Regions from separate parts of the Homo sapiens genome. Here region 1 is linked to region 2. Evidence: fine-mapped expression QTL. A gene starts in region 2. The other region holds a variant in brackets. All regions are shown on one strand. Distances are between the middles of the regions.

Region 1 (4,394 bases), 150 kb before region 2:
AACCCAGTCTCTACTACATATACAAAAATTAGCCAGGAGTGGTGGCACATGACTGTAATCCCAGCTACCTGGGAGGCTGAGGCAGGAGAATCGCTTGAACCTGAGAGGCAGAGGTTGCAGTGAGCTAAGATCATGCCATTGCACTCCAGCCTGGGGAACAAGAGTGAAACTCTATCTTTAAAAAAAAAAAAAAAGTTAAACGGTAAATTTTGTTAAGTGTATTTTGCCACAATAAAAAAGTAAAAAAAAATAAGTTCTGTGTATGGATGGTAGTGACGGCTGTACAACAGTGTAAATGTGTATATAACATCTCTGAATTGTACACTTAAAAATGTTAAAATGGTGAATTTATGCTTATTTCCACAATATTTTTAAAAGCTGGTTAAGGTCTTTCAGTAATTAGCTTCACTCTAAATTATTTTTAAGGCAGATCAGAATATAGTTGCTCAGAGGCTTCTAAATACTTTGTAAGCAACTGAACCACCACTACAGCTAACCAGCACCCCTAAACCAATTATTGCCTAGCAAAGTATTACTGCCTTTCAACCCACTGGCCCTGCCTAAGTCTGGCAACCATATAAAATGCTTGATACTGCTTCTGCATTAATAAGCAGTGAGCTCTTCAAATGTAACACTTGATGTCCAGGGCAGGAGCAGGTTATAGACATAGTATGCTTAAATCTACTTTCCCCATGGTTGATGACTAGACTTAAATCCTCAGTCACATTCCCTGCTACCTGACTGGGGCCTTGTTTCATTATCTGTCGCCCTTGGCCCTACTCCTTACATCTTTAATCCTCTCCTCTGGGTCCTACATCTCATTCTAAAATCAGACTAAGTCTCCTCATGCCATTAAAATCTTCCCTGGACTCTCAAACCTTCAAATCTCACCGCACCCCCACCCCCCGCCCCCACCGCCACCCAACTTACTCCTCTTCTTGGCTACCGAACTTCATTTCTGGATCCCCCAGGAATTGACTTCAGCCTGCTACTTGACTGAATTACACTCCTGAAAGTTAACCATGACCTCCAATCTGATAACCTATTATTCATACTACCCAAACTAAAGGCAAAAAAGAAGAAAGAAGAAGAAAGACAAAGGAGGAAGAGGAAGGAAGAAGGAAGAAGGAAGGAGAAGGAGACGGAGATGGAGATGGAGACAGAGAAGAGGACAAACATTTGTAAAAGGTCATCAATCACAACCTCCTTAAAACTATTTTCTCCCTTGGCTGAAACTCTCCTAATTCTTCTCTTACTCTCTGGTCTCTTTTATCTCCTTCCACCAAATCTCCAAATATGGGTACTTGTCATTCTGCCTTCACCCTTTTTCTTCCCTCTCCTAGGAATTTTTCAGAACTTTTCTTCTCAAAACTTCGCAAAACATTTGAAAATGTTTTTTACATTTTATATGAATACCATCAGCACAAGAGGTTGCAGAAGGAGTCAGGTAGTTGGAGAACAATTCTGCCTACCCCAGTAACTAAGAAGCTGGCAACAGAAGTATGCTTCCCTACTGCACATGTATATATCAGTGTCCAAGGTTAAGAAAACCACATTTGTATTTTTTGGCAGGTACAATACATTTTAAATGAAAAAAACATTTAGAATGTTTTCTTTTCAAAATGATTGTACTGATAGAAGGAAGTATCTAACAATCTGTTCATTATTAATTGCATGTTTTCTGATATGGTTAATTATTTAGGCTTGATGTAATCACTCAGCTGGTTAAGACTGCTTACTGATACAAAGTTAAAGATAGGATGTACAAATGCAATTAAATATCAGTTTCTTAAGGTTAAAAAAAATAATAATTTCCTCCAATAGAGAGTTCTTAACATTCTATGTGGAAATAAAATTTGTAGAAAAGAAACAGAAAAATGAAATCCATAGAGAATTGATATGCTACACCTTAAATTAAAACTTATCATCAGAATACTTAAATTCTTAAAAAGTATAATTTATGATATTTAATAAATAATTTATGAGTATGAAAAATTAAAACCATGGACTTTTTTAAACTTTAGGATTAATGACTAGTAATGGCTTCTTTGCATAAGTTGCTTCCTTTCGCCTTAAACAAAGAAACCATACATTTTAAAGTTTTATCATAAAAACAGAATGTATATGAAATTATTTCACTTTAGCAATTTTTAAAGTATTTTAAGGCTCAAAAACTTAAGGATATGGGAAAGTGATCAAGATGTAGTGATAGAGGAAAAAAAGAAAGTTATAAAACAATGTAATCTCATGATTCCAATTTTGGTTAAAAACCAGTATGTACTAATGGGCACAGTAGATACACAAAGTACACAGAAGCCCATATATCAAAATGTTAATGGTAAATCTTGAGGTAGTACAAGTATTTTTATTTTCTTCCTTATACTTTGTTTTCTTCCTTTATACCTTTATTCCTTTCTATAGCAAACATGCATCACATTTACAGTTGAGTTTTGTGGAAGAATAAACTCTATATTTCATTCCATTTCTGCCTTCCTGCTTATATTTTGATAGACTAGGAAAGGA[C/A]CATCTTTCAAAGCTGTGCAGAGTAACTCTTTAGCATTGTCAGTGCTCTCATATACCTAATCCATCAGCAAATCCTGTTAATCCACTTACAAAATATAACAGAATTCAACTACTCACTATTTTCACTGCTTCTTCAAGAGAAGTCACCGTCATCTCTCGGTTTATGCAAAAGTCTCCTAACTAGTCTATGTAATTCCACCCTTACCACCTTTCTGGCTCTAATGTCACTCCTCTACTTAGAAATTCTGTGACTTCTCATCTCATTCAGAATAAAAGTCTAAGCACTGATTGTGACCTTCTAGGCTCTATGATCTGGACCAGGAATCACCATGCACACTCCCACTTCAGCACCACAGAACTTGCAGTAAGTTGGCTCTGCCTAGATATTCTACATCCAGATACCCTCATTTTCTTCAGCTTTTTATTCCAGTATCATCTTCTCAATGAGGCCTTCACTGGCAATCCAACACAACACATCAACCACTCCACCCTACCCTTGAAATTTCCTATCTTGTTTCCCTGTTTTATTTTTTCTACTCTAGCACTTATGACTATCTAAGACACATGATGTATTTATTTATTTTTGATATTATCTCCCTCCCTCAGTAGAATATAAACTCAATAAAGAGAAATTTTTACCTTTGTTTTTCCTGCTGCTGCATCCCTAGTACCTAGAATAGTCCCAAGCACATGGTAGGTACTCAATATATATCTACTGAATAAATGGATAAATGCATTCCAGTGAATCCACAAGCTTAAACCCACAGCTTCTCAGTTACAGTAATAGTTGGCTCAATGAATGTCATGAAATGATAGCAACACATTTATTCATATTCTGAGAATCAATGACTTTCTAAGTGACTTTGCATAGGGCAAGAGAGCTGAAGAACAGCTATAGTAAACAATAATGTAGACATATTTTCTCAAGCCTAAAAGGGAGCATCTAGGATCTTAGCTTCAAAATTTATGAATAAAATTATGACTTGATTTGGTATAACAAAGGTAAGGTACCCTGAGATCATATTGCTGTTATTGTTGGTACTAAAAAGTAAGCAAAACTGTCTAAAATCATATTGTTACTCTTCTAACTTTTCCATTAGAATATTCAATACCAGTCTGTGAAACTGGATATATAACTTTCCTTATGCAAACAAAAAACTAGCTGAATATCATACTACTATGCACCTGAGTATCTGTTATCTGAAAGATCTTTGGATCTTTTATAAACATCAATCAATGCTGTGCAGACAGAGCTAAGAGGGAAAGGCAATTAGATACTGTGAAAAAATGGAGGCAATCAGAAGAAATACAGTCCATGGTGGCAGTGACAGAGCTAAGCAGGAGGTATGGATAATCTGGGTAAGTGCCATGGAAAAATAAATATCATGATTGAACTTGAGGCAAATGGAAACAGTTCAAATTGGCTTCATACACTACTCTGTGGAACATATGATGTCCATATGTCCATTACCAACAAACTGAAACATGGAAAATAACAAAAGCCGATGCTATGATGGCTATAAGAACACACCCAATGCCAGTCTCTACCACACCGCAGCAGCATAACTTACTACAGCTGCCAGGTAAGTTGGCTAAGAAGTCAGAAGCAATAAGAAAAAAAGGAGAAAGAACTAACTATAAACTGTTCTCTTTCCCTACAGAAGACAAAGTTGGGATCTATACTAGAAAGTAGAATGTAGCAACGATAAAGGCTGAAAGTAAAGCACAATTTTTTCTCTGTAGACAGTTTCTAAAAGTATAAACTACTTTGGAATTAAAGAAGGCAACATTTTATCCAAAACTACAAACGATTTAAGATCCAGAGAACTAAATAAAATAACAGAGGAATAAGATGGAATAACTTCCAAATA
Region 2 (4,394 bases):
ACCACTGGACTAAAGCGTCCAGCTAGAAGGTACTGCTGCAATTCAAAAGTGAGGGTCATAAAACCATGGAATGGGTTTTATGGGGTAGTACTCTTGAGAAAGAAAACAGAAAAAATTAATCCACCAACTTTTTAATAGAAAATTTGATAGGCTATAGTGACAAACTAGATGGGATAATGAAAGAGTAAGACCTACCTGAAAAAATAAAAAATGCCAACTGAGCAGCAGCTTCTAGTCATACTTGAACATCAACGACATCGATAAGGCCATGTAAAAGTCAGCACTAAGGAAGTGTTATTCAAGGCAGAAAAGCAAAATGGCACTTTTATAAGGATTAAGAGCAGAATAAGCAACAGAGACCAGGAGATTACAGAAAAAGAGGACCACTACATCATGGAATGATAAGAAAGAGAGTTTCAAAAAGAGCCATCACTGTATACAACAAGAGGGTGCACAGCCTTTGTAGCCAATCAGATGCAGAATTCTGGCACTTTCTCCACTTGACCAAGTTATTTAACGTCTTTGAGCCTCATATAATAAGGAAAACATAAGTTAACAACTAACACTGTTGAACACATAGGGGCTTCAAATATATTTGTCAAATTTTATTTCTTAAGCTCAGTCGTGATACATAAATATTTATTAAATTAGTCCCCATTATCTTTTGTTGTTTTTGTTTTGTTTTTGTTTTTTTGAGACAGGGTCTCGCTCTGTCCCAAGTGCTTTACATATCACCTCATTTAATCCCCACAATACATTTCACAGATGAAGAAATTAAACTTAGAACTAGCATAATAAGTAGCAGAGCCAGGATTACTATTTCTTAGGATTTAAATAATGTATACTTAAATTTCCTGGCAAACAGGATGACCTCAAAACGAGTAGCTATATTTCATTATTAGGAGATAATAATCAATAGGGGCAAAACTGCCAGTAATTCCTGTCATAGCCTTCCATGTGGCAAACTCTCTCAACATCCTCATCTATAAATTAGGATTAATGCCTATAATCCAATCTACTCCATAGGGTTGCTGTGAGGATTAAATATTATGAATATGAAAATTCTATAAAAAATGTTGAGACATTCAAATATCAGGGATTGCTGTCACATATCTTTCGCCTTCAAAAATGCTTTTGCGGCATTTTTGTTCACTACTTCAAAATAAGACTCTGAATAAGCTAAAAATAAGTCTGTTAAAAGTGCAACCACCACTTTGAAAAGTATAAATCACCACAGAATTGCTGCCTACACCTGCCCCTGACTCCTCCAGGTTCTCTAATGTCTCCACAAGGGCAAGGATTCTCTTACACCTATAATGAAACTCTGATAACTTACAGTACAGCTAATCAATAGAGAGCTGCACTTCAATTCAGAGTTGTTCAAACTGGACTACTGTGTTTTCTCAGAGGTGCTCCTTCCAGTTCTTCCAGAAAAGAAAAAAGTGCCCAATTCTCTTATATTGTATTAAAACGGTGCCCAATGAGTAGAATGCAGGTAACTTACAAAATGCTAGAAAAGAATCTATCAATTGACTTGCTCAAGTGCTCTGACAGCAGGTCCCTTTTGGAAACTCCTTCACGACCCCCCCTTTTTTTCACCTGAACAGATGGCTTCCAGGCTTCAAGGCTCACATGTCTAGTCACACAATTCACAATAGCTCCCAAAGTTCCTAACTTTTCAATTATCCCATGTTCTTGAACACACCTTTCATCTAAAGATCTCTAGCTGTCAAAGCATACGAACTCTTTAATCTTCACAACAGCACTATCTGAGAGATTACTATCCTTATTTTATAAGTTAAAAATGAAAGACTGAGGTTAAATATTTTAGCAACATCAAACAATTCGTTAATTCATTCTTGGGGAGAGAGGAATACATATTATGAACTTCTGTCAATGGACAACCTAGATTTGGCTTCCTAAGATCATTGCAAATATTAGCTCAAACACATCCCACTCTTGTATGCATACATTTCCAACACAGGTGTCAAAGATTAAATATAAACTATTAATAACAGTAAATACCATACCAAAGCAGCACTATTTTTACACGCAAAACTATATTGGGGGAGGGGGTTCTAATTTAAACTTCCCACTGTCTTGCATCCATAAATACTTTTGAACTTGAGGGGGAAGGGGGAAGAACACCTGTCAGAGCAGCACATCCACAATGTTTTACAGACTGTGTAGCTATTAATATTTAATTCCTCCCGCCCCGGGAGGTCAGGCCGCAGGGAGCCCGGCGCTGCCCACCCGACTTTCCACGCGCCAGGCCTGCCGGCCGCAGGGGAGGCTCCGGCTCCCGCTCCCCTCAGGTCCCCTCGCCCGTGGACAGACGCGGCGGGACACTCGGACCCGCCTCCCGACCTCAGCGCGCCCGGCTCGGGGCCCGGCGGGCGGGGAGAGGCTCGCAGCAGGGCCTGGCCTAGCCACCCCCGCCCCGCGGCCGCCGGCGCCGCTTCCCTCCTTCTTCCCGCTCCCCGATTCGTTACCTCTTAGGCGCCGGCGGCTGCTCCATGGCGGCCGGGGACAGAGAGAGGGACCTGGTGGACGGCGAAGGCCGAAAGGAGGAAAGGAGCCGGGGCACCGGCCGGCCGAGCCTAGGGCACCACAGAGGGAAACTCTGGGAACTCGGACCAACTTTCCCGTAACTCCGCGGCGGATCTCCCTCCCGCTTAGGAGCGCGGCTCCTCCCGCCCCGCCCCGCCCCCGGCCGCCCCGCCCCGCCCCCGGCCGCCCCGCCCCGCCCCCGGCCGCCCCGCCCCGCCCCCGGCCGCCCCGCCCCGCCCCCGGCCGCCCCGCCCCGCCCCCGGCCGCCCCGCCCCGCCCCCGGCCGCCCCGCCCCGCCCCCGGCCGCGCCGGCCGCCAGCCTGCGGCGGCGGCCCAGAGAAGGTGGACGGAGCCGGGCACCGCGGCGGGGGGCGGAGCCTGCCGCGGCCTGGGTTGGCGGGCGGGGCCGGTGCCGCGGCGGGTGGGCGGGGCCGGGGACGAAGGCCTGGCTGGCCCCAGAGCCCCGTGACCGGGAAAAGGAGAAGGTTCCGCTAGAGCTAGGGGGCGAGGCCGGAGCCGCTCTAGGCTGGGGAAGGGCAAGTCCCTCTGAGCTGGCCCAGAGCTCCGCCCCTAGCCTGCCCTCACTACGGTTTGCCCTGATCCAATTTGACTCATTTCTTTGGCTTTCCCAACGACACATCCTAACATCGTGTGAATCCGTTTGAAGTATTACTTTCTCACTGCCCACGCTTCCCTCTCTAGTTCTGTTTATAATTATCGGTTATGTTTTCCCCCAGCCATTTGACATGTGTAGGCCACAGTACTAGGGATACTTCTGGAAATTCTTGTTTGATTTTTATTGTGGACAAGCTCCTCGCTACATTTCACAATAATTACATCTAATTACCGAGAAAATAATTCGTACAGTGAGATCTCTCGGTACACCAAATTCAGTTGCACTGGGCCCTTGCAGCTGTCCCATTGGGTAACCTGGCAAGCCTGTCACAAATTATGCTGCCAGGAAGAATACTCAAGAAAAGTTTGTTTCCTCCCCTCTTTGGTCCTCTCCCCCAACCTGATTCCAGCAGCCCTCATCCCATTGTAATCTGACCACTGCATGCATCCATATTGTGGGTATACTTTTAACCTTAAATTCCATATATACCTTTCACATAACAATATACAGCTGCTACATGAGTTTACTTGTTTTTGTCAGAAATTGTCAAGATGGGCCGGGCGCGGTGGCTCACGCCTGTAATCCCAATACTTTGGGAGGCCAAGGCGGGCGGATCACTTGAGCTCAGGAGTTCAAGACCAGCCTGGCCAACATGGTGAAACCTCGTCTCTACTAAAAATACAAAAGTTAGCCGGGCCTGGTGATGCGCCTGTACTCCCAGCTGCTTGGGAGGCTGAGGCAAGAGAATCACTTGAACCCGGGAGGCAGAGGTTGCTTTTAACCTTAAATTCCATATATACCTTTCACATAACAATATACAGCTGCTACATGAGTTTACTTGTTTTTGTCAGAAATTGTCAAGATGGGCCGGGCGCGGTGGCTCACGCCTGTAATCCCAATACTTTGGGAGGCCAAGGCGGGCGGATCACTTGAGCTCAGGAGTTCAAGACCAGCCTGGCCAACATGGTGAAACCTCGTCTCTACTAAAAATACAAAAGTTAGCCGGGCCTGGTGATGCGCCTGTACTCCCAGCTGCTTGGGAGGCTGAGGCAAGAGAATCACTTGAACCCGGGAGGCAGAGGTTGCAGTGATCCGAGATCGCGCCACTGCACTCCAGCCTGGGTGACAGAGCAGACCTTGTCTCAAAAAAGAAAAAGAAAGAAAGAAATTGTCAAGATGTAGAGTTACATAGAATTTTCTTGGAGGTTAGAACAATAAATATGAAGAG

Evidence for each region. PIP is the estimated chance that this variant, and not a neighbour inherited with it, causes the effect.
Region 1: its variant is the best candidate, but not a certain one, in a credible set for the expression of STK3 in whole blood (TOPMed, PIP 0.62).

Annotation. Positions count from the first base shown.
Region 1 is chr8:98,676,436-98,680,829 of GRCh38, forward strand. All of the region lies in intron 6 of STK3 (serine/threonine kinase 3), which reads right to left. Among named protein-coding and RNA genes, the nearest start is that of STK3, 150 kb to the right of the region's middle. The variant C/A (reference allele first, on the strand shown) is at 2,524.
Region 2 is chr8:98,823,023-98,827,416 of GRCh38, forward strand. It overlaps STK3 (serine/threonine kinase 3), which reads right to left and starts at 2,666. Exons shown (of 11, transcript NM_006281.4): 1 at 2,493-2,666. The coding sequence starts at 2,518. RefSeq lists silencers at 2,233-2,742, 2,813-3,152.